7 linked regions of the Homo sapiens genome follow. The gene in region 1 interacts genetically with each later gene. Each region holds a gene or a part of one and is shown in the gene's direction. Other genes may lie near its edges. The genes, in order: EED, TBL1XR1, RAB1A, MAN2A1, CAND1, RICTOR and MAN1B1.

Evidence for each region.
Region 2: changes in EED (region 1) and TBL1XR1 together harm fitness less than expected from each alone (positive genetic interaction), as found in Homo sapiens cells (one large-scale study listed by BioGRID).
Region 3: changes in EED (region 1) and RAB1A together harm fitness more than expected from each alone (negative genetic interaction), as found in Homo sapiens cells (one large-scale study listed by BioGRID).
Region 4: changes in EED (region 1) and MAN2A1 together harm fitness more than expected from each alone (negative genetic interaction), as found in Homo sapiens cells (one large-scale study listed by BioGRID).
Region 5: changes in EED (region 1) and CAND1 together harm fitness less than expected from each alone (positive genetic interaction), as found in Homo sapiens cells (one large-scale study listed by BioGRID).
Region 6: changes in EED (region 1) and RICTOR together harm fitness less than expected from each alone (positive genetic interaction), as found in Homo sapiens cells (one large-scale study listed by BioGRID).
Region 7: changes in EED (region 1) and MAN1B1 together harm fitness more than expected from each alone (negative genetic interaction), as found in Homo sapiens cells (one large-scale study listed by BioGRID).

The regions. Positions count from the first base shown.
Region 1 is NC_000011.10:86,265,253-86,268,752, forward strand, and holds part of EED (polycomb protein EED), read left to right. Parts: intron 1-830; coding exon 831-964; intron 965-3,203; coding exon 3,204-3,309; intron 3,310-3,500. UniProt on the Homo sapiens protein: Polycomb group (PcG) protein. Component of the PRC2/EED-EZH2 complex, which methylates 'Lys-9' and 'Lys-27' of histone H3, leading to transcriptional repression of the affected target gene.
Region 2 is NC_000003.12:177,019,483-177,022,982, reverse strand, and holds part of TBL1XR1 (F-box-like/WD repeat-containing protein TBL1XR1), read left to right. Parts: 3' UTR 1-3,500. UniProt on the Homo sapiens protein: F-box-like protein involved in the recruitment of the ubiquitin/19S proteasome complex to nuclear receptor-regulated transcription units. Plays an essential role in transcription activation mediated by nuclear receptors.
Region 3 is NC_000002.12:65,120,107-65,123,606, reverse strand, and holds part of RAB1A (ras-related protein Rab-1A), read left to right. Parts: intron 1-3,500. UniProt on the Homo sapiens protein: The small GTPases Rab are key regulators of intracellular membrane trafficking, from the formation of transport vesicles to their fusion with membranes.
Region 4 is NC_000005.10:109,696,427-109,699,926, forward strand, and holds part of MAN2A1 (alpha-mannosidase 2), read left to right. Parts: intron 1-3,500. UniProt on the Homo sapiens protein: Catalyzes the first committed step in the biosynthesis of complex N-glycans. It controls conversion of high mannose to complex N-glycans; the final hydrolytic step in the N-glycan maturation pathway.
Region 5 is NC_000012.12:67,317,406-67,320,453, forward strand, and holds the end of CAND1 (cullin-associated NEDD8-dissociated protein 1), read left to right. Parts: 3' UTR 1-2,548; downstream 2,549-3,048. UniProt on the Homo sapiens protein: Key assembly factor of SCF (SKP1-CUL1-F-box protein) E3 ubiquitin ligase complexes that promotes the exchange of the substrate-recognition F-box subunit in SCF complexes, thereby playing a key role in the cellular repertoire of SCF complexes.
Region 6 is NC_000005.10:38,948,900-38,952,399, reverse strand, and holds part of RICTOR (rapamycin-insensitive companion of mTOR), read left to right. Parts: coding exon 1-204; intron 205-1,679; coding exon 1,680-2,688; intron 2,689-2,972; coding exon of another isoform or gene 2,973-3,044; intron 3,045-3,500. UniProt on the Homo sapiens protein: Component of the mechanistic target of rapamycin complex 2 (mTORC2), which transduces signals from growth factors to pathways involved in proliferation, cytoskeletal organization, lipogenesis and anabolic output.
Region 7 is NC_000009.12:137,103,985-137,106,833, forward strand, and holds part of MAN1B1 (endoplasmic reticulum mannosyl-oligosaccharide 1,2-alpha-mannosidase), read left to right. Parts: coding exon of another isoform or gene 1-381; exon of another isoform or gene 382-992; intron 993-2,140; coding exon 2,141-2,331; intron 2,332-2,704; coding exon 2,705-2,825; intron 2,826-2,849. Other genes in the region: uncharacterized protein LOC124902313, read left to right, coding at 1-226. UniProt on the Homo sapiens protein: Involved in glycoprotein quality control targeting of misfolded glycoproteins for degradation.

The DNA.
Region 1 (3,500 bases):
AATGCAAAGGCTGGATTAACATATAGTATCTAGGTTAGTAAGGAAAATATACTCCTTCAATAGAACTCTCTACTGTTATTTCTTAGAATGAGAGCAGGAGACAGTATGTAGCTCTTCTGTGTAATACAGGAGTTCACTGGAGGTGGATAGGTGTGTGAGATTTTCATTACTCATTATGTGCCTTTTGCTAAATTAAATAGCATCTCTGGGCCTTAGTGTCTGCCTATGAAATGAGGTTGTTACAATAGATGATCTGTTACATGCCTGTTAAAAATTAGTAAACAGCAAATGAAAAAAGTTAAAATCTGTTTTTTATTAGACTTTTAAAAATTCACTTAAAAGTGAACTCTAAAACTAACTTCAAAATATTTTGACTTAGAATTATAAAGTAAGATGTCAGCTCTTTAAGGATTCATGTATTTTCACATGCACATGTCAGTTTCATTGGTTGGTTGAGGTTGGATAGGAAAAGTAATATCACTATTCAGCTCTTTGTGTCAGAATAATTATTTTAACTTAGTATTCAATTTACCTTCAAAATAAGCAAAATAAATATTTTAGTGTAATTGAATAGATAAAACTAAGTTTAAGTAATTTTTTCTTGGTTTATACATTGTAAATGCTCTTATATTCCGATGTTGACAAACTAATTAAAGCTGTAAATCTTGAAAGTAGTAAACTCTGATTTATGGCCTATTTAGATGAAACCCAAAATGTAGTTTGTATTGTGATTTGAAATACAGTTTTCACTATGTTGCACATTAGGCAAAAATTGGATAAATATAATTTGGAGCTGTAATTTATATAAAACTTTTTGGTTTTGCATACAGGATTATGATCTTTTGGGTGAAAAAATAATGTCCTGTGGTATGGATCATTCTCTTAAACTTTGGAGGATCAATTCAAAGAGAATGATGAATGCAATTAAGGAATCTTATGATTATAATCCAAATAAAACTAACAGGTAACAGTTGTGGTATTTGAAACAATTTGCTATGTTGTGCTATTGAATATAAGTTTTATTTTTTCCCAAAATTGCTATATAAGCCCCAACAATGAGTTTAGAAGACCTTCTTTTAACTTTAAGGGACAATTTACATACTGTAAAATTCACCCCTTTAAGAAGTCCTTTATTTGCAGTGTTTGTGGCTTAGTTTTCAAAATCCCCTTTAAATTGTGTTGTCATCTTAACTTAGTAGCACATTTTACTTATTTGTATTTTGGTATGCATATGCTTGGCCTTTTAAGTTATAAATGTAAAAGTTTTAAATCACTTAAGCTTATTATGGACTAGGGAGAGTAAAGGACACTTTAGAATAATGTTAACTTTTTTTAAATGATGCTAATTCTAATTCAAGATGGTAAACCACAGTTTTAAACAATGGAGTTCTTAGCTCTAATTCATGATAATGTTTTTCCCTAAATGATGCTCACTTGATTAAATGGAGAGAATTCAAATGCAGGAGCCTCACTTCATGGTACTATAGGTTGGGGAATTTTGCAGTTTTCTTAGTATATTTTTGAAATGTCTCAATTCTTAATGCAGTAACTGTCTTTAGAATCTTATCAGGCTGTCATTAACACTTTCACTATAAACGTTGTATGTCTGCATGTTAACTTTGTTGGCACTTTTGTTTTAGCAAAGAGCTAGAATTCATTTTCTGGTTATCAAGCCAGATTGTTAATAGATTATTAAATTTGTAAGCATCAGTAAATATTTCAATGCACTAACATTCATCAGACCTAAGTGTCCTCTAAGAATTATTAAAAGTTTTACCTTTCTCCTTTAAAACACCAGGAGCTAGTAGGACAATGTTAAATTTATATTTTTAGATTATTTTCTAGATATCTGGAATAAATACAAACTATATTTCAGAGTTTTCAAAAAATAACAGTTGTACTCGTTTTTTCTTTGAGAGAGGTTTGGCCATACAATTATAGTATGTATTTAGCTAAAAAGCAATTAATATAATTATAGCAGAGTTAAGAATTTATATCAGATCACGAATAACATTTTAATGTTTCAACAAAATATCCCAGAATTTGAATTGGAAGGATTGTTTTGAGTTGCTCCAATCCAAAGTGCTTTTTTACATATCTGAGGGAAAAGGTAAAGAGAGGACATATGAATTGCCTAAGACAACTAATTCATGGCATATTATACTTATACAGCTATTTCTGATTTAAAACTGAGTATATTAGGAATGTTAAGTGTACTGTTAAATAACTCCAGAATTAATAGCAGCTTGTTTTGTTTCTTCTCACAAATATCTCTAATGAAAACAGTGTTGCCATTTAGTTTCCTAAATACAGAAATTATTTGGAAAAGTCCTAGGAAATTTTATTTTGTTCTATTTGTTTTTTTGAGACGGAGTTTTGCTCTTGTTTCCCAGGCTGGAGTGCAGTGGTGCAATCTTGGCTCACTGCAACCTCTGCCTCGCAGGTTCAAGCGATTCTCCTGCCTCAGCCTCCCAAGTAGCTGGATTACAGGCGGCCGCCACCATGCCTGGCTAATTTTTTTTTTTTTTTTTTTTGTATTTTTAGTAGAGATGGGGTTTCACCATGTTGGCTAGGGTGGTCTCGAACTCCTGACCTCAGATGATCCACCTGCCTCGGCCTCCCAAAGTGCTGGGAGCCACCGCACCCACCCCCACTTAAGAAATTTTAAATTCCTGTAAGGCATCATTTTCAGAAATTATTGCTCAAGGCAGGACTGTAGATGTATCTTTAGCAGACTTTGGAATGATGTTTAGTTGTTCCTGGAAAGATGACTATCTTTTGAAATAGTGTAGATATATTGACTTTCATAGATTATTAATGCTTAATTTTAAGGACTGAGTAGGTAGCTTAGTATATTTTCAGTGAGAAACTGATCAGGCCTTTATTATTGGTTAGGGTACCCAGAATTGAGGTGATTAATTTTGGGTTATATATAGTAAAACGCAGGAAACTACAATGTTTATAAACAAAGTATCTATCATAGGACAAAGATAAAATTGGATAATAATGGAGAAAAATAAACAAAAGTGGAATGAGACTTTAGCTTTCAATAAATAGATAAGGTGGTTGGTTATGTAGGAACACAGAGGAATTAATAGTCTTACATTTTGTTTTTCCAAGTTTTATAAATCCAAAAATGAAAAAGAGTATGATTCTACTATAATTTTTTCTTTTAACTTTTTACATTTCCATTCTTCCTTCAGGCCATTTATTTCTCAGAAAATCCATTTTCCTGATTTTTCTACCAGAGACATACATAGGAATTATGTTGATTGTGTGCGATGGTTAGGCGATTTGATACTTTCTAAGGTATGGTAACTGCAGTTAAGCTGTACTTCCATCGTGTGTGTGTGTGTGTGTGTGTGTGTGTGTGTATGTGTGTGCGCATGTTGGAACTTGGCAGGGAGCACTTTATGTAGTTTATTAAATTGAATGGCAGCTGGGAAGTTGCCTTTTTTAAAGTCTCATATTTTGATATATTTAGAAACTTGTTTTAAGAA
Region 2 (3,500 bases), on another chromosome or scaffold:
TAGGACATATAAAAGATTATAAATACAGAGCTTTATTATCCTGACGTCTTGGGTCTTTTAAGTATATACTTTTCTGAAAGGTATCCATTTTGTAGGCTTGGGTTCTTCATGAGCATACGATTGTTTATTTTTGCTGCTGTTCTCAACATCATCATTGCCTGCTGATGTGCCACGATGCTGCTCCAATAGACAGCAATAAGATTGTCTCTAATTTGAGCAGTAACATGATTGCAAGAGACCAAGTTTCACAGCTTGTAAAGTTCTGTATTTGGGATTCTTGCTTATTTTTCCGCCTGTGTTTTTCTGAGAACTTATTCCTGATGATCAATTGAATCCAGTAGTTTTTCTATGCTATTTGTTGTTGTATAAGCTACTGTAAGAAACTTATCATAAGGAAAAATAGAAAGGAAAACTTGAATCAATACTCATTGATTAAAATGGAATAAAGAAAGAGCAGCTGCCACTTTTAAACAACATAAAGGAATATCTTTTTTTGTCTCCGTGTAGGAAATCCCATAAGTTCTTATATTTGTTCCAGTTCCCATTTCCTGCCATTGACCAGATAACATCATTGACTTTCAAATGACTTTTAGAAGTGATAACTCTTAATTTCCTAATAGATACTAGATTGTATTGAATTCTGTTTTAATTATTCTCTAGGTAAGTATGTTTTAGGATTAAATACCTTTTACAGATACTGAAAGTGCCTCCTTTTGTGGTGTAAAAAACAAATTATGGTGCAAAAAGTAATCACTAGATTGAAATACATGAAGGTTTTTTGCTTTTTGACATACGAAAATGTCAAGAGAAAGGCCAAAGATTTGTACTTTTTCACTTACAAAGCACTCCTTTTTCCCTTAAACTTCTTTCTGTCAAATTAGATTTAATGAGAGAGTACTATTTTTAAGGAGCTATCTGTTTATGTAGAATGATTTTGTTAAGAGTAATGTAAACTATTATTGAGTAGAGGCCTAAAGAGGACTGTGCATTTTTGCTATTTAAAGGAATCACAAATGATCATACTTAAGTGAGCAAAAATGACAAGTTTTACTAGCTAAGTAGAGAAATAAATCTCAAATGCAGCGCTACAATTTTCATTATCTTAAGTACATTGTACATTTCTACAGAACCTGTGATTATTCTCGCATGATAAGGATGGTACTTGCATATGGTGAATTACTACTGTTGACAGTTTCCGCAGAAATCCTATTTCAGTGGACCAACATTGTGGCATGGCAGCAAATGCCAACATTTTGTGGAATAGCAGCAAATCTACAAGAGACCCTGGTTGGTTTTTCGTTTTGTTTTCTTTGTTTTTTCCCCCTTCTCCTGAATCAGCAGGGATGGAAGGAGGGTAGGGAAGTTATGAATTACTCCTTCCAGTAGTAGCTCTGAAGTGTCACATTTAATATCAGTTTTTTTTAAACATGATTCTAGTTAAATGTAGAAGAGAGAAGAAAGAGGAAGTGTTCACTTTTTTAATACACTGATTTAGAAATTTGATGTCTTATATCAGTAGTTCTGAGGTATTGATAGCTTGCTTTATTTCTGCCTTTACGTTGACAGTGTTGAAGCAGGGTGAATAACTAGGGCATATATTTTTTTTTTTTTTGTAAGCTGTTTCATGATGTTTTCTTTGGAATTTCCGGATAAGTTCAGGAAAACATTCTGCATGTTGTATCTAGTCTGATGTACTTATCCATCTCATTACAAACAAAAACACACAGACTGCATTTGTAGCTCTGTAATCCTTGAATACGGAAGTAAATTTTCTTCTTTCCTGACTTTGACATTGTAGCTATACTGTTTCCATTTTTGTTTTTACAAATCCTTTGGGTCTAATTCTGTGAGCCTACCTATAGCACTGGATTAAAATGTCTGCATCATTTCTTTAGTTATCCAGTTAACTTTAAAACTGTTGTAAAAGTGTAAACCAGCCCATGACAGGTTTTTGTACATGTTAAAGAACTTCATTGTTCAGTTTTCATGATTATTGTGTAAGGAAGACTGATGTAGATGTTCTGTGCTGTCCTGGACCATGTTAATTACACTTACGACGTATTTTAGTTCCACATCACAATGATTTGTCCCCAGTGACCCTTTTATCCTTTCTAGGCACATTTCTTGTTGTTGTTGTTGTTGCAGTTCCCCTTTGCATTGTATTGCTTTGACAACTGTAATTTGAATCAGATCTGAAAGAGGTCCAGAATAAAATATATTTTGATATTATGTTGGCTGTGTACATATATAAAACCTTTGATGTCTATGTAGTTTATATAGACTATTTACTAGTCAGGTAAAGAGAGAGGGATGGTATTTCTTGTTTACAGTTTGTTTACATTTTAATTGCTTTTACTTCTCCAGTGTTCTATTGTAGAATAAACCTTTTTTTCCAAGTTAGCCTTCATAACCTATAACACATTCATTCTCTCCCATACTGGTGTTACTGATTAATAACTGCCATCAGAACCCAAACCACTGTTTTTCATAAACGTATTGTTTCCCAAGATATATACTTTAAGCCCATAATAAAATTACAAATTTTACTATTTTTATTACTTCTTGCAGGAGATAAGATTTTTTTAAATGAAGGGGTTATTTACTATTTTTATTAAAGTATAATAGAGCATCTAATCAGCTAAGGGATTGTAATTTTTAATTCTTTTGAAAAATAAATATTGTATTTAAAAGACGTTATTTCACAGAAGCTGAAAAAGAGACCTTAGATAACATTTGTTTGGTTAGCCACACGGTTGAGCACAAAACAATGTGTAGATGTGTTGAAGATTAGGGCAGGAGGCTCAACTTCTCGGTGACCTTTTTTTGCTTCACAACAAGCCAATTATAGTTGAATCATTTTCTCTCTTAGCTAGTTGTTACTACAAACTTTATAAGAAAAACAACTAGACACCTTCTAGTTTTAATTAATACCAACTCCTTTAGAGTTAGAGACTTTTTAAAAAGAATCATTGAGCATATTTTCTTTTTTTTTTTTTTAAGAATTTACACTCTCTAGGTCTTCTATTTTTCCTGTTTATTTCCTTAAACAGAAATAAATTCAAGCATAGTTTTATGTTTTATTAGAAATAAGCCACTGCAGTTGCTAGAACTGACATGCTTTCATTTTCAAGGGGTTAACTTTTATTGCATGGCATAGATTATTAGTAATATCCTGCATTGTATACTTTTCCAAAAAGGGTTGGACTCCTAAGGATTAGAATCCTTATAAGCTTGAGGGAAAGCTGAAACTAATTTGAACAGTAATAGAAGGGATTATTTTTAATTTCATAGTTAACACTTTACAATGGATTAGATTTATTACCTAGTATAATCCGTAGCAGATCAGATCAAAGTTTACTGTTTTACCAATATATTCATTTGAAAAAATACAGTGGAGGAAAAGACACTTTAGATGGTAGTTTTATGGTGCTTTTCTCTGCTGTACCAAAGTGCTTTGTCATCAATGAAATGTTAACCCTATGCTACTTTTTCTGCATGCT
Region 3 (3,500 bases), on another chromosome or scaffold:
ATCCACCCACCTCAGCCAAATTGCTGGGATTACTTGTGTGAGCCACGCGCCTGGCTTCTACTTGGCTTTTAAAGGGAATTTTGCTTTCTGAGTAATTTTATTTCTCAGGTATCTTGGTCTTTTTAATTCTGGAAGCAATCTTAATAATTTATGTATGTGCCCTGTAATCCCAGCACTTTGGGAGGCCGAGGTGGGCGAATCACGAGGTCAGGAGATCGAGACCATCCTGGCTAACACGGTGAAACCCCATCTACTAAAAATACAAAAAATTAGCTGGGCGTGGTGGCAGGCGCCTGTAGTCCCAGCTACTTGGGAGGCTGAGGCAGGAGAATCATTTGAACCCGGGAGGCAGAGCTTGCAGTGAGCCGAGATCGCGCCACTGCACTCCAGCCTGGGCGACAGAGCGAGACTCTGTCTCAAAAAAAAAAAAAAAAAAATTTACGTATGTGCTAACATCCTGCTATATTCACCTTCCATAGCAATCTGTTGGCTGTGTGTTGTGTATGTGTGTGTTTTCTCTTCTGGGTAGTTTTGACTATACCTATGTGATGGTTTCACTATTTGTAGTTTGAATAGTTCAGTTTTATTTTGGATAGTAAAGAAGAGCTTGCTTTTTTTTTTTTTTTTTTTTTGTCTGAGACGGAGTCTTGTTCTGTTGCCCAGGCTGGAGTGCAGTGGTGTGATCTGGGCTCACTGCAAGCTCTGCCTCCTGGGCTCACACCATTCTCCTGCCTCAGCCTCCCGATTAGCTGGGACTACAGGTGCCCGCCGCCAGGCCCAGCTAAATTTTTGCATTTTTTAGTAGAGATGGGGTTTCACTGTGTTAGCCAGGATGATCTCCTGACCTTGTGATCCACCTGCCTCTGCCTCTCAAAGTGCTGAGATTACAGGCGTGAGCCACCACGTCTGGCCAGAATAGCTTTCTTTTGTGGCAAGCTATATACTTTCCTAATATATGAACATGTTTAGGGTAAAATAAGATGCTTCTTAACGTTTTGAGATTTAAAAAAAATTTGCTAATCAACTTTGAGTGTCTGTTTTTTGAGATATAGGGTCTTACTCTGTCACGCAGGCTACAGTGCAGTGATGCAATCATAACTTACTATAGCCTCCAACTCCTAGCCGGGTTTCAGTGATCCTCCCACCTCAGCCTCCTGAGTAGCTGAGAATACAAGCGCGTGCCACCACACCTGGCTAATTTTTTTTTTTTTTTTGTATTTTTTGTAGGGATGGGATTTCAATATGTTGCCCCAGGCTAGTCTCAAATTCCTGGTCTCGAGATCCACCTGCCTCAGCTTCCCAAAGTGCTGGGATTATAGGCATGAGCCCCACGCTTGGCTGAGTGTCTTAAGATGAAGAAAAACTGAAAATGGGTGTAGTGTGCCAGTGCATGAGGTATTTTAAATGTGTAGCTTACCAGCTTTTTTTTTTTTTTTTTTTTTTTTTTTTTTGAGATAGAGTCTTGCTCTGTCACCCAGGCTGGAGTGCAGTGGCACAATCTTGGCTTACTGCAACGTCTGTCTCCCGGGTTCCAGCATTTCTTCTGCCTCAGCCTCCTGAGTAACTGGGACTACAGGCGTCCACCACCACGGCCAGCTAATTTTTATATTAGTAGAGATGGGGTTTCACCATGTTGGCCAGGCTGGTCTCCAACTCCTGACCTCAGGTGATCCGCCTGCCTTGGTCTCCCAAAGTGCTAGGATTACAGGCGTGAGCCACTACGTTTGGCTGCTTATCAGCTTTTTACCACTTTGTCGCCACTACATTTTGGAATTTTCCTTTGAGAATTAGGCAAAATGCCCAGACTCCCCCCCGGCCCCCGCTTTAGAGGGAGAGGGGAGCAATTAGACTATTCCTTTGTTTCCCTATAGAAGGTGGGGCTGAGATTACTGCTTTGATATCTGGAATGTAATTTAGGGAAGAAAATTTAGGTCTTGGCCTTTCTTTGGAACCACCCTGGGAGTGTTGCAGATTATTAATAGGGTAATGGTGGAATGATATTCAGGGGAAAAATGGTCCTGAGGAGCCAGAGAACTAAGTGTTAGTTTGTTGGCTGACTGAAACATGTGAGAGATAGGGTACAGAAGAAGTAGGAAATAGTTTTCCTTGGTACTTCTGTGACAGGTTGGCTCAATTGGCTGGAACACCCTACACTGCTTTATTAAATCCAAGGTTGTGATAGGTTCCAGTTAAGTTTACTGTGTTCTATGCTTGTAGATTTCCTAATTAGGACAAGTAGTGTTAAATATGCATGCCTTTATTCACAAGAGGGACCATTCTTTTGGAAACATCACTTTTTAATAATACTAGGTGCTATTTAGCACTTACTCGGTGCCAGCCACGTGGCTATGGTTTTTTTTTTTTTTTTTTTCGAGACATGATCTAGCTCTGTCTCCCAGGCTGGAGTGGTGGTAGCACAGTCATGGCTCACTGCAGTCTCAACCTCCTGTACTCTAGTGATCCTCCTGTCTCAGCCTCCTGAGTAACTGGCACCATGCCTGGCTAATTTTTTTTTAAGAGATGAGATGTCGCTATGTTGCCTATGCTGGTCTCGAACACCTGGGCTCAAGTGATCCTCCTGCCTGAGCCTCTCAAAGTGTTGGGATTACAGGTGTGACCCACCTCACTTGGCCATCTATGGTCTTTACATAGGGCATTTTGTGCAGTCTGCGTCTCAAACTAGTGATCTTCAACAGTGAAACTCAGTGAATTATGTAATTCATGTTTTCCAAGAACAATGATGGATTTAATTTCTCTGAATGTATTTCCTTTGTATAATAATAGTACTTAAGTGGAATTACTCTTTGTCCTTTCTACTCTCCTTATAGATATTTTCTGGTATCTTGATTTGGGACTGTTACATTTAACCCATTTATGGTCGTGTAGCCATACTCACGTTACATTTGATGCATCTGCTCCCTTTGTGTCTATATACTCATATAACATTTTGCATAAAGTTATAGGCAGTTCACACCAAGGCTGTTCATGAACCTCAGATTAAGAATACTTGATTTAGGAGATTGAAAACAGAAAAGAGAATGTTAACTATCATTATCAATATTAAAATGTGAAAATCTGAGAGTGACAAAGCTTAGCTTTAAATCTGGTATCCCAAACTCATTTGAGTTTTTTTTTTTTTTTTTTTTTTTTTGAGACAAGGTGTCGCTTTGTCCCCCAGGCTGGAGTGTAGTGGTGTGATCTTGGCTCACTGCAACCTCCACCTCCCAGGTTCAAGTGATTCTCCTGCCTCAGCCTCTGAAGTTGCTGGGATTACAGGCTGCGCCACCACGCCCAGCTAATTTTTTGTATTTATAGTAAAGACGGAGTTTCACCTTATTGGCCAGGCTGGTCTCAAACTCCTGATCTTGTGATCCTCCCGCCTCGGCCTCCCAAAGTGCTGGGATTACAGGTGTGAGCCACTGTTCCCGGCCTAATTTGAGTTTTAAAATGTGGAGTTTAAGATGTTAGTCTTAAAGTGGGTTAGATGAAATTTATAAAAA
Region 4 (3,500 bases), on another chromosome or scaffold:
TTTCTAAATCTAACATACTGTTTTCTAAAGAAGAGAAAGTACTTTAGTTTAAAACTGGACATACTCTACCATTTGCTGCCTCTATCCAGGCTTTGTAACCTCTTTGCTGTTGACATTTTGGGCCAGAGAATTCTTTCGTGTTAAGGGCTGTCCTGTGCGTTGTAGGGTGTCTAGCAGCATCCTTGCTGTCTACCCGATATCTGCCAACATCACTGTTCTCTCTCTGTACCCCTAGTTGTAGGAACCAACAATGTCTCCAGACACTGCTCTCAATATCCTCTGGGAGTGGGAATCATCCCTGTTGAAACTGTGTTGGCTGTGGCCTCTTCTTTATACCCAGTACATGTCGTTAGCACTTCTGTGTTTTAGGAAGGATTGATCAAAAGGCCGAAGCTCAAAAAGCCAATTAGCATTTTTTGATGGGTGAACTCTATTCTTTCTCAGGATGCCTGAAATTCACTTACACATTTAGGATTCTAGATTGTAGTATGTTACAAAAAATTTCAAGGATAGATTATGTTCATAGGTAAGTTGAAGGAAAAAATGGAAGATTCTTATAATGGAACGTAAAAAAATTCTTTTCCAATTGGACGTGTGTATTCTGAGAAAAACATTAGGGTCAGGTCATTGTAAATAGATCATCTTTTACTTTCTTCCAGCTGAATTACAGGTTGGCACTTATCCAGATTTATTCCTCTTAGCATAGGAAGATAAGATATATTGATTAATAAGGTAGTATAAAAATTGTCTGCAAAAATGTTTTGAAATGTCTGCAGTTTTCTCAGGCAGACTGTTTACTTTTCAGTGTATTGTTTTTATTTCTGTTAATTTTGATGATTCTGGTTACAACATTTTAAATATCTTCTTGAGATGAGAAAAAGCAGGGAAAGAAACTGGAAAATAAGGAGAGTGGATAGAGACTTTCCTCCTGATCATTTCATTTTGTCCTCTAAATAGCATTTTTTACGAAAGTGGGGTGGAGGTGGGAGGTTAGGGAAAGAATGAAGTTCTTGACAAATAATCTTCCTTCTTTTGTCTCCAAGGCCTCTGGTTTTGAACTCTGCTGAGTCAGCTAACTATGAGTGAAATCTGTCTGCCACCTGTCTTTATAGGGCCATGTGCTAAGAATGGTTTTTACATTTTTAAGTGGTTTAATAATGTTTCATGACATAGCCATGGTCATTCATCTACCAATTGTCTCTGACCACTTTCACACAACAGTGGCATAGTTTAGTAGTTAAGACAGAAACTGGCTCACAAAACCTAAAATATTTACTCTCTGGCCCTTTTCAGAGTTTGCCAATCCCTAGTTTAAACTATATTTCTCTATTGTTAATATTGGAGGCAAATAGTATTGTTAGATCTGTTAAAGTAGATGTGAGTTAATTAAAGACAAACAAAATTCTCGTAAATTGGTTATTAGATAAGCATTGGTCAAACTTTGTGTTTTTAGAGAGTGGTTTAAAACTTGTGTTATCTACATGTTTCATAGATTTCCAGGTATCCTTGGGGAACTTTGATGCTAGAGCATCGACATGCTTGATGAGTTTGTTTCTCTTCTTTCACCTGAAGGTTTTGCACTGTAGGACTGCTCTGGGAAGGAAGGTTCTGGGCCATGAACTAGGCAAAATTGATCCATAGCTTCAAGACTGAAAACCATGACTTTATGACTTTTTGGATCTGCTGTAATTCACAGATGGGCTTAATTCTGAGCCCAGTCTGATTGCTTGGGTTAGTTAGTCCTGAGAAGGGAGAGCTCAGGTATAGGTATCTTCTTCATAAGCTGTAAATAGAAGATGGAACTCAGCCGGTCTCTGGGATCCTGAGCGTTGCTCAGCTTGGAGGCAGGGTACTTTCAGGTTGTCAGCAGAGGTACTGGCCTGCTCTTCTGCTTATCAAAGAGCAGTTCTTGCTAATTTTCATCATTTTCTTCACTTTTAAAGATTATATGTCACTTTCTTTGCTGTGTTGCTGTGACACAGGCTAACACCCCATTTGTGTCCTCACAGATTTTAGTATCATCTTTAAATTGCAGTATACTGAGTCCGAACAAAATGGGGGTAATGCGTCTCATCGAGTAGTATTAAGGTTAGTGTTAAGTAGAGTTTTTTAAGTATTTGTTTTTTTGCATTTAAAAATGTATGCATTTGTGTATTTTTCACATGTAAATGGATTTACCACTGGCCTCCTTTGCAGGTGGTGCCTTTGGAAGTCCAGAGAAATTAAATGCTTTTTCCAAGAGCAGAGAAGACTCTAAATTTGACCCTGTCCTATGTTCTTGCTGGTGCACTTCATTGGCTTCAGTGAGGAGTCCGGAGAGCTGGGACTTTACCAATGATTTTTTTTTTCTTTTAAACATGTAAAAGGTATAAATGCACATAGAAATAATTCAAATGACATAGAAAGGTACACATTGACAATAGAATCCCTCTCCCTTTTTTCCCCATCTTTAGTCCACTCTTCTCTGAGTCCCACTTCTGACCATTTCTTTATGTTCCATGTGTGGTTCCTTCTTTAAATATATGCATATACCTCTGTTTTGATTTTTGTTTCAATTTTGAGCTATTGTTTCCCTTTATAAGAGATGAAGAATTTAACTCAATACCCCCTACTCTTCCCAGTTTTTAAAAAAGTTTTGTATTCAATTTCTGTTTGATATACATTAACAGCTTTCAATGATGTAATTGCATTTGTTTTCTTGATTCATCAACTTTAGGCCTAAAGTGACTCCCCACTCTGTCAGTCAAGGAATTTGGTACTTCTCAGCCTTCTCCCACTCAATTTCTCTTCCTTCTCATTTCTCACCCTCCCTCAGCCATCAGTTTTTTTACATCAACATACCTTATATCATCTACATTTCATTCTGTGACTGAATGTGTTATGTACTCTGACTATAGGTTGGTTACAAAAATTGAAAACCAGTAAACAAGGATACGGAATTTTAGGTAGGAGGAATAAGTTCAAGAGATCTATTGTACAACATACTGATTATAATTAATAATAAAGCATGTAGTTTTGAAAATTGCAAAGAGTAGATTTTAAGTGTTCTCACCACAAAAAAGAATAAATAAGTGATGTAATGCATATGTTAATTAGCTTGATTTAGCATTCTACAATGTATGCATTTTTCAAAATGATATACTTGATAAATATATACAATTTTTATTTGTCAGTTAGAGCTCGTTTGGAGGTTCCAGCAGGGGAGTGCAGCTCCTTGTATACCCTTGACCGAAGACCCGTCCTCCATCAGGGATGGTCATCCTCTACGACTGAGCATGCAGCTTCAGGAGGGGCTCACATAGAGTGGTGAGGGAGGAAGGGGACACCCGCCTAGCCAGCCAGATCAGCCGAATCAACCCTGGCGATCAATGGGGTGACAGATTTCGCAGCCAGATCGCCCTCACATCCTATTTGTCAGTTAAAGAAATAAAAAATGTTAAAAAAAAGAAAACCAGTACATAGTGTTTTCAATTTTATGATATTAAATACCATGCAGTATA
Region 5 (3,048 bases), on another chromosome or scaffold:
TTATTGCAAGTGCCTCCTTGCCCAGCCACATGTTGTTGATTTCTTTTTTCTTTTTTTTTCTTTCTTAATTTTTTTTTTTTTTTTTTTTTTTGAGATTGATGGAGTCTTGCTTTGTCTCCCAGGCTGGAGTGCAGTGGCGCAATATCGGCTCACTGCAACCTCTGCCTCCCGGGTTCTAGCTATTCTCCTGCCTCAGCCTCCCAAGTAGCTGTGATTACAGGCGTGTGCCACCATGCCCAGCTAATTTTTGTATTTTTAGTAGAGATGGAGTTTTGCCATGTTGGCCAGGCTGGTTTCAAACTCCTGATCTTAGGTGATACACCCGCCTCGGCCTCCCAAAGTGCTGGGATTACAGGCGTGAGCCACGTCCCCCAGCCAGTTTCTTAATCTATACATCTAGCCCAGTCCATGCCCCTGTTTCAGACTATTATATCCAACCACCTGCTATACATCTCATAAAGGTATCTCAAACACAGCATATCTAAAGCTGAAGTCATCATCTTGCCCTGGTTTTTCCTGTCTCTTTGCTGATGGCATCCCATTTACCCAGTCATTCAAACTGGAAATCTAAAAGCCTCACTTAGCAAGAGTTTGGAGGCAGAATATGATAAAGAACAAGGACTCTGGGAGGCCAAGGCAGGTGGATTGCTTGAGGTCAAGAGTTCGAGACCAGTCTGGCCAACATGGCGAAACCCCGTCTTTGCTAAAAAAACACAAAGAAATTAGCTAGACGTGGTGGCACATGCCTGTAGTCCCAGCTGTGTGGGAGGCTGAGGCAGGGGAATTGCTTGAACCTGGGAGGTGGAGGTTGCAGTGACCCAAGATTGCATGCACCACTGCACTCCAGCCTGGGTGACAAAGCGAGACCCTGTCTCAAAAAAAACAAGGACTCTACAGATAGATAGACATCATATATCATATTAGTTTGAATCCTGGCTGTTAGCTGTTAGACTTGGGCAAATAATTTAACCTCAACTTTCCCTATCTATAAAATGGGAATTAAAATATTTGCACCTTATAGGGTTATTGTGAGGATTAAATAGGAACATTGTATAAAGCACTTAAAACAGTACCTGGGACATACTAAGTAATATAATTGTTAACTCTTACTAGCATTCTGTCCCTTTTATTTCCTAAATATCTCTCATGCCCATCTCCTAAATATCTCTTTCCTAAATATCTCTCATGCTTTTGGCTTAAGACCTCTTTTCCTCCTTATCTATTGACTGGACTGCGGCAAATGCCTGCTAATCGTTATTTTTGTGTTCATTCATTTAGCAAGCCAATTTATTACGCGCTTAGGGTGCTGCCAGGGCTACAAAAGCTGTTGAGACTGTACTTGATATGAAGAAGCTTGCTGATTATCATGGGAAGACTGACATAAGGAAGCACCATAAAATTCTGCTGTATGAGAGGTATACACGGGATACTGGGGGTTAATAATTGAGGGTATGGTCCATTCAACATGAGTGAGACAGAAACAATTCATAAAGGAGATGAAATGTCTTGAGGAATGAGCTCTTAGAAGAATAGTTTTCAAATGAGTGTGCATCACAGTCACCTGTAAGACTTATTAAAACAGATCGCTGGGCCCTACACCCAGAGGCTGTGGTTCAGTAGGCTGTAGTAAACCAGTAATTTGTATTTCTATGACGTTCCCAGGTTCTAATGCTGTTCCCCAAGGCCACACCTTGGAAACCACCACATTAAAATACCCAGAAGGCATTAATTCCCAGTCCTTCCTCTACACAGCTGCAAAACAATGGTCCTGACCATTTCATCTTTGCACTACATCCTTCACTGTCTCTCTTTTGCCCATAGGATAAGTACAAACTAGATCTGGTTACTGCCTGCCCCACCAGCCTCAGCATCTCTCACAACTAGGACTAACTTTTTCTTCTGACAACTATAAAATATTTCCCTTGCCTTCTCAAGTTTGCTCAAGGTCAAGTTATGCCTTTTGCCTGGAATGACTTGACTTCTCTTTTGTTTTACTTAGCTGGCTGCTTTTCATCTTGTAGGTTAGGTCAAGGACTCCAGGAAGTCTTCCCTGGACAAGTAATGAAGAGGGCATAATCCAAGGGCCAACTCCCATGTTTGGAACCTGACTCCATTTTCAGGCACGTAATATTGTCAAATTCCTTTTAAAAGCACCTGTCTGTCTGTTAACGTTGGTGCAGATACTGCTATTCCCCTCCTCCATACCATTGCTGATGGTTACTGAGGGTATGGGAAGGGCCGACTAGTCCAGCTGTTCACAAACAGCCCTTAATGTCAAACTGAATACTGCCAACGTAGTTCCAGTTTCTGTATCTAAAGACTCAGCTTGGAGTCACTTGTCTGGACTAAAAGTAACCCCTCCTTGTCTGGTTTGTGACTTTCTGTACTCTGATGCCCCCAGCTTTCTGCCTTCTAGAAATTTGTCAGAATTTCCAAAATTCTTGGGCCTTCCTTCTTGCTCTATATATGGTTTTGGATTCATTCCTTTTAAAAAATATTTACTGTCATTTCAGTAGAATTTTGACACAATAAATATAAGCACATCAGATTTTTTGCCATCTTGAAGCATCTGTTATTTCTTGGTCTTTGGTAATGCTTTACTGAGAAACATTATAATATAGTTGTAAAAGCTCAGGCTCTAAACCTGGGTTTAAATCTGGTTCTACCACTTCTTGAGAGTGGGACTTTGGGCAAATTATTAATGTATCTAGTGTTACCAGTGGAGGGGCTTGACTACGAATTGTCCAGGTCCTGGGCATTTTGAACAAAGAACTGAACAAAACGCGCAAAGTAGCAGAGGAATGAAATGCAGGAATGAAGCAGCAAAAGCAGGAATTTTATGAAAGCGAGAAAGCACTCTACTGGGTGGGAGTGGGCCTGAGCAAGTGGCTCAAGGGCCCAGTTACAAAGTTTTCTGGGCTTTAAGTATCCCATTTGAGGTTCTTATCATCTACCCCTTATCTGGATGAAGTATTTGGTCTGTGGCTAAAGGCTGAGGTGAATTGGCACCCTATGCACACGAAGAGATGGTCCCTGTGTGGCCCTCAG
Region 6 (3,500 bases), on another chromosome or scaffold:
TAGCTAAAACCAAACAAGGCTGTGATATTCTAAAATGTCACAACTGGGATGCTGTGAGGCATAGTCGCAAACATCTGTGGCCAGTGGTTCCAGATGATGTGGAACAACTCTGTAATGAACTTTCATCTATCCCAAGCACTCTAAGTTTGAACTCGGAGTCAACCAGCTCTAGACATAATAGTGAAAGTGAATCTGTGCCATCGAGTGAGTATCCTGACAGGTTCATATAAAGTTAGCCAATGTTAACATTTATATTTGAATTTTAGAATTTAAATGTATTTGTTACATTTGTAATTTGCTTTTGTCTAAGATAATTATTTGGCAATAATAGCCTCTTGGAGAATGTGTATATTTTCATAACAAAGAGTATAATCACCAGCTTACATTTTTCTCTCTCCTTATATTCTAAGTAGCTTTTGAGGATTCCTACAAAGTTATGTAATAAGCCATGTGCCAGAAGAACCAGTCCTCCTTTTTTTGACAGAAAAGAAACAAATATAACAAGTATTTATTTGTCTACCTTCTTTATTTAATCTTTTTACTCATTTTTCAGATACTGAGATTGTTGAGCCAGAATATATTTTTAACTGATATTATATTCACATCTTCATTTTTGAGAGAAGCACTAAATTTTAAAATAGTGAAATTGTTAATAGAGTAACAAAAATAGTTATATATAAAATGATTTGTGGTTTTAAGTCCTGTGCTAAGTGGTGTTAGGTGTACAAAATTTAAGGCATGGTTCTTCCTTTTAAGAAGATAGTGTCAGCTTTATCAGACTGTGTATTTCACCAAATCTGAGATGCCATGAATTATGAAATATGCCAATATTTTATGTACCACAAAAGAAGAAGAAAGAAGAAGTGCTGCCTATTAAACTAGGACATACTACAAGATGCATATTGATTTTAGAATCAGATTCTGTGTGAAAATAGAAGGGATTAAATGTGAAAAGTGTGCATCTTAGAATTGACAAAATATAGAAATGGTAATGCAGTATGCAAATTCACTTAGGATTTTCTTTTACCTTCTTTGAAAATATATTTGAAGTATTTGTAATTATTCAACAGAAAAGTTAATAAAAGAAAAATCGTATAGATGTCATTAGGCACTCACTTGGGTTGCGTCTTCTAGTAGAATTGGGCACTAAATTTAATGAGTTTCTTAGTATCTAAGGTAAAATGAGAAATAAACATAATTTAAACATGAATTTATAATGTTACCACTTGGTTCTCTGTAAGTATATTTTAAGATTGGGAATTCATTTCTTACAAGGTGAATTTCTCCTGCTTATAGTAATTTAAAGAAGAACCACTAGGAATCTGTAGTAATTGAGTAAGCATCCATGGCCAAGTCTCCTTTTTCCCTTTAATTTCATCCTGAATATTTGGAGAATCAAAAGAAACTTCATGTAACCTGTGCCATAGTGGGTCTTATAATAATTTTTCTTTGGAAATAACAGGAGATTCTCATAAATTACATAATTTTACATTTTATTCAAGTCCAAACTCTGGGTTTCAAGAAAGATATTTTCAAGTAGCTGAATGGTTTAACCGTTTATTTTTAAATTTTTTCCTCTAGATGACTAAAAAAAAATTTCCTGAAATGTGATGTCACTAATAGTTATCATGAATTTGTCATTTTATATGTGTTTTTATTAATTGATCCTTCAATCATAGGTATGTTCATATTGGAGGATGACCGGTTTGGCAGCAGCTCTACTAGCACATTTTTCCTTGATATCAATGAAGATACAGAGCCAACATTTTATGACCGATCTGGACCCATAAAGGATAAAAATTCATTCCCTTTCTTTGCTTCTAGTAAACTTGTGAAGAATCGTATCTTAAATTCGCTTACTTTGCCTAACAAAAAACATCGTAGTAGCAGTGATCCAAAAGGAGGGAAATTATCATCTGAAAGTAAGACAAGCAACAGGCGAATCAGAACACTTACGGAGCCCAGTGTTGATTTTAATCATAGTGATGATTTTACACCCATATCCACTGTACAGAAAACATTACAATTAGAGACTTCATTTATGGGGAATAAGCACATTGAAGACACTGGTAGTACACCAAGCATTGGAGAAAATGACTTAAAATTCACCAAGAATTTTGGTACAGAGAATCACAGAGAAAATACAAGCCGAGAGAGGTTAGTAGTAGAAAGTTCAACGAGCTCACATATGAAGATACGTAGCCAAAGTTTCAATACAGACACTACAACAAGTGGCATAAGTTCAATGAGCTCAAGTCCTTCACGAGAGACAGTAGGTGTAGATGCTACAACTATGGACACAGACTGTGGAAGCATGAGTACTGTGGTAAGTACTAAAACTATTAAGACAAGCCACTATTTGACGCCACAGTCTAACCATCTGTCTCTCTCCAAATCAAATTCGGTGTCCCTGGTGCCTCCAGGTTCTTCTCATACGCTTCCTAGAAGAGCACAGTCCCTTAAAGCACCCTCTATTGCTACAATTAAAAGTCTAGCAGATTGTAACTTTAGTTACACAAGTTCTAGAGATGCTTTTGGCTATGCTACACTGAAAAGACTACAGCAACAAAGAATGCATCCATCCTTATCTCACTCTGAAGCTTTGGCATCTCCAGCAAAAGATGTGCTATTTACTGATACCATCACCATGAAGGCCAACAGTTTTGAGTCCAGATTAACACCAAGCAGGTAAGCAAATATATGTTTAGAAGTGACCAATAATGGTTGCATTTTAACAAATTTAAATACAAAATGTTAGCCAGGTTTTACACTATGTGAGCCTCATCACTGACCTATTATAATTGTTTACTATGGTAGGCTATAAGCTCCTTGTTACCCGATATGACTTGAAATGGATTCTTGCAGCTGCGAGGGGGGAAGAAAATCCTATAGGCCCTGAAAATAAACATACATGCTTTGCAAAGGACATACAAGTCACAAGCTTTTTTTTATTTATTTCTCGCTTCTGCAAGGATCGATTTTAAAAAGAAGCATGTCGGGGGAATCAGGAGCTTAAGACCTACAATAACAAACAACCTTTTCAGGTAGGTCAATTTAAGGCTCCAAAAGTTGACCTCTTTATTATTTTTTTAAAAAGATAAATGAAAATTTCAGTGAAATTATTTTCACTTTAAGTAGCTGTGATTATTAAATAGGAACCTAATAAACACTAAATGAAATACTTGGTCCTCATGACTCAGCAGGGATTTCTATACCATATTTAGATTATATCAAGCTAGTCAAAGTGAACAGTTTAGATTTTACTTTTAAAAGATACACAGTATTTGCTGCAAAAAAATTTTGTACCTATAATTTTTGTGGTTGGACCAAATGCTTCTAAACAACTTTCCTTAGTTTTAAATTATTCATTTACATTTATTTAAGTGGATTAATATATGTCAGGTACTTATATGTCAACAATATATGTTAGAATACTTTAGCACATATTAAGCACTCAATAAAAGTTAGCTATTTATCATCATCATTGGTAGTTATTTAAT
Region 7 (2,849 bases), on another chromosome or scaffold:
ATGCAGGTCGGTGGTGTTACATTCACGCTGTTGCAGGAGTACAGGTCAGTGGTGTTACACACATTCATGCTGTTGTGCAGCTATCACTTCCATCTCCAGAGCCCTTTTCATCTTAAAACTGAAGCTCTCCCATCACACAGTGACCCTTCATGTCCCTCCCCAGTCCCTGAAAAACACTGTTCAGGTTTTTCTTCCTGGACCTCATTGTGTGGAGTTCCTCGTGTGAGTGCAGTCACACACGATTTGTCCTTTTTTTGTTTTCGTTTGTTGAGACAGAGTCTCATTCTGTCACTCAGGCTGGAGTGCAGTGGCGTGATCTCAGCTCACTGCAACCTCCACTCCCAGGTTCAAGTGATTCTCCTGCCTCAGCCTCCCAAGTAGCTGGGATTACAGGCGCCTGCCACCACGCCCAGCTAATTTTTGTGTTTTTATTAGAGACAGGGTTTCACCAAGTTGGCCAGACTGGTCTCAAACTCCTGACCTCGTGATCCACCCGCCTGGGCCTCCCACAGTGCTGGGATGACAGGCGTGAGCTACCACACCCGGCTGATTTATCCTTTTATTTGGGCTCCTTTCACTCAGCGTCTTTAAGCTTCATACGCGAAAGATGCTTCAGAGATTCCTTTTTCAGGCTGAATATCTGCTGCGTGGCTAGGCCACTTTTTGTTTAATCCTCTCTCCTCTGGTGGACACCAGGACTGTGCTGTTTTGGTTGCTGTAAGCGCGGGTGCACACGCCTGCCTGAGGCTGTGTTTTGGCCGTTGTGAGTGTGGGTGCACACACCTGCCTGAGGCTCTGCTTTGTTGTGAGTGCGGGTGCACACACCTGCCTGAGGCTGTGTTTTGGGTGTTGTGAGTGTGGGTGCACACACCTGCCTGAGGCTGTGTTTTGGGTGTTGTGAGTGTGGGTGCACACACCTGCCTGAGGCTGTGGCGCGATCTCGGCTCACTGCAACCTCCACCTCCCGGGTTCAAGCGATTCTCCTGCCTCAGCCTCCCGAGTAGCTGGGACCACACCCACCACCACACCCCGTTATTTTTTTGTATTTTTAGTAGAGATGGGGTTTTGCCATGTTGGCCAGGATGGTCTGGAACTGACCTCAGGTGATCCACCCACTGGCCTCCCAAAGTGCTGGGATTACAGGTGTGAGCCACTGTGCCCGGCCTCTTTTTACTTTGTTAATGGTGTATTTTGATAGATAACAGATTGTCATTTTCATGAAGCACAGCTGGTCAGTTTATTGTTGCTCATGTATTTGGCCTCATGTTCGAGTCCCTGTTTTTAATCATGAGCTGGACACAGCCCTCTTTAGAGCAACTGTGACCACTTGTGGTGAGAAGTGCAGCCCACACCATCCACGTGAGGCTCCCACACGCCATCCACGTGAGGCTCCCATGCAGACATTTAGAAGGCGTTTTCACTGCAGCTCAGAAAATGGCCCCAGGCCCCCATGGGCACCCCCATGTCACCAGGGCCTCTGGTTGCTGCCGGTACACAGGGATAGGCAGCCAGGCCTCGAAGGTGCTGGGCATGGGTTTGGGTGTCTGCGTTGGGTAGAGACCCGGAGCGCCCTTGCTGGGCGTGCCCTAACATCCCGGTACCCTGTGCCCCTCTGTGGGCCAGGACGCCTGGTGCTGCCAGCTGGGCGTAAGCCCTGAGGAGCTGAGGGTGGCTGTGACTTGGAGGATGAGTAGGAGCTCACCAGGAGGGCGTGGAGCCGAGGCGTTTAATATCATCAGGAGCAACACTGGGCTCAGAAGGCAGGCACACTTGCCGTCCCTCCAGAGCCATGGCTGACGGCCAGGCCTGGTGGGCTCTCGTGAGGACAGTGCCTGTGGTTGTCAGATGCTGTCCCTTCGAGTAAGGGATGAGAGCCATCCTGAAGATGGGTCAGCTCTGTGGTGACCACCCGTTGGGAGCAGTGACATTCAGGTGCGTTGCACTGGTGGCTGTGTGGCTGTGTGGTACGGCCACCAGGAGCCATGTGGGCAAGGACAGCTGTGGGCTGGGCACAGAGCTCTCTCTGCTGGGAGTCAGTCGGTGCTGGGGCGAGGGGAGGCAGAGCTCACAGAGCCCCTCTACAGCTCACCCTGCAGCTCGGCCCTGGCCAGTAAACCCACCATCCCCCTTTCTGCCGCAGGAGGCAGTGGAGAAGGTGACACAGCACATCCACGGCCTGTCTGGGAAGAAGGATGGGCTGGTGCCCATGTTCATCAATACCCACAGTGGCCTCTTCACCCACCTGGGCGTATTCACGCTGGGCGCCAGGGCCGACAGCTACTATGAGTACCTGCTGAAGCAGTGGATCCAGGGCGGGAAGCAGGAGACACAGTGAGGCCCGGCCCGCTGCCCCCAGCTCCCGCGGCTCCCCCGTTCCCGCAGCCCCCCACTCCTGCTGCCCCCAGCTCCCACGGCCCCCGCTCCTGCTGCCCCCCGCCACACTGTGTGTCAGGAAACCGCAGCCGTGCCAGGCCTGGCCCAGGCATTTATGTGGAGGGCGTATTCATTCACCTCTCACCGTGGCCTCTGGGGGGGTGAGGGGGGCATCTTCACTGAGGGCCATGGGCTGTGCAGGGTGGCACCTTCTGTCCGGCAAGGGCCAGGCCTGCTGTACTTGTGTGGGCCCAGGATGTGCCTGTCCCTGGTGCCCCACGGGAGCCGATGCACCGTCCTGGTAGAGTGAGATGACTGCTGGTGTCCACAGGCTGCTGGAAGACTACGTGGAAGCCATCGAGGGTGTCAGAACGCACCTGCTGCGGCACTCCGAGCCCAGTAAGCTCACCTTTGTGGGGGAGCTTGCCCACGGCCGCTTCAGTGCCAAGATGGTGAGTGTGTCTGCGGGGCCTTCC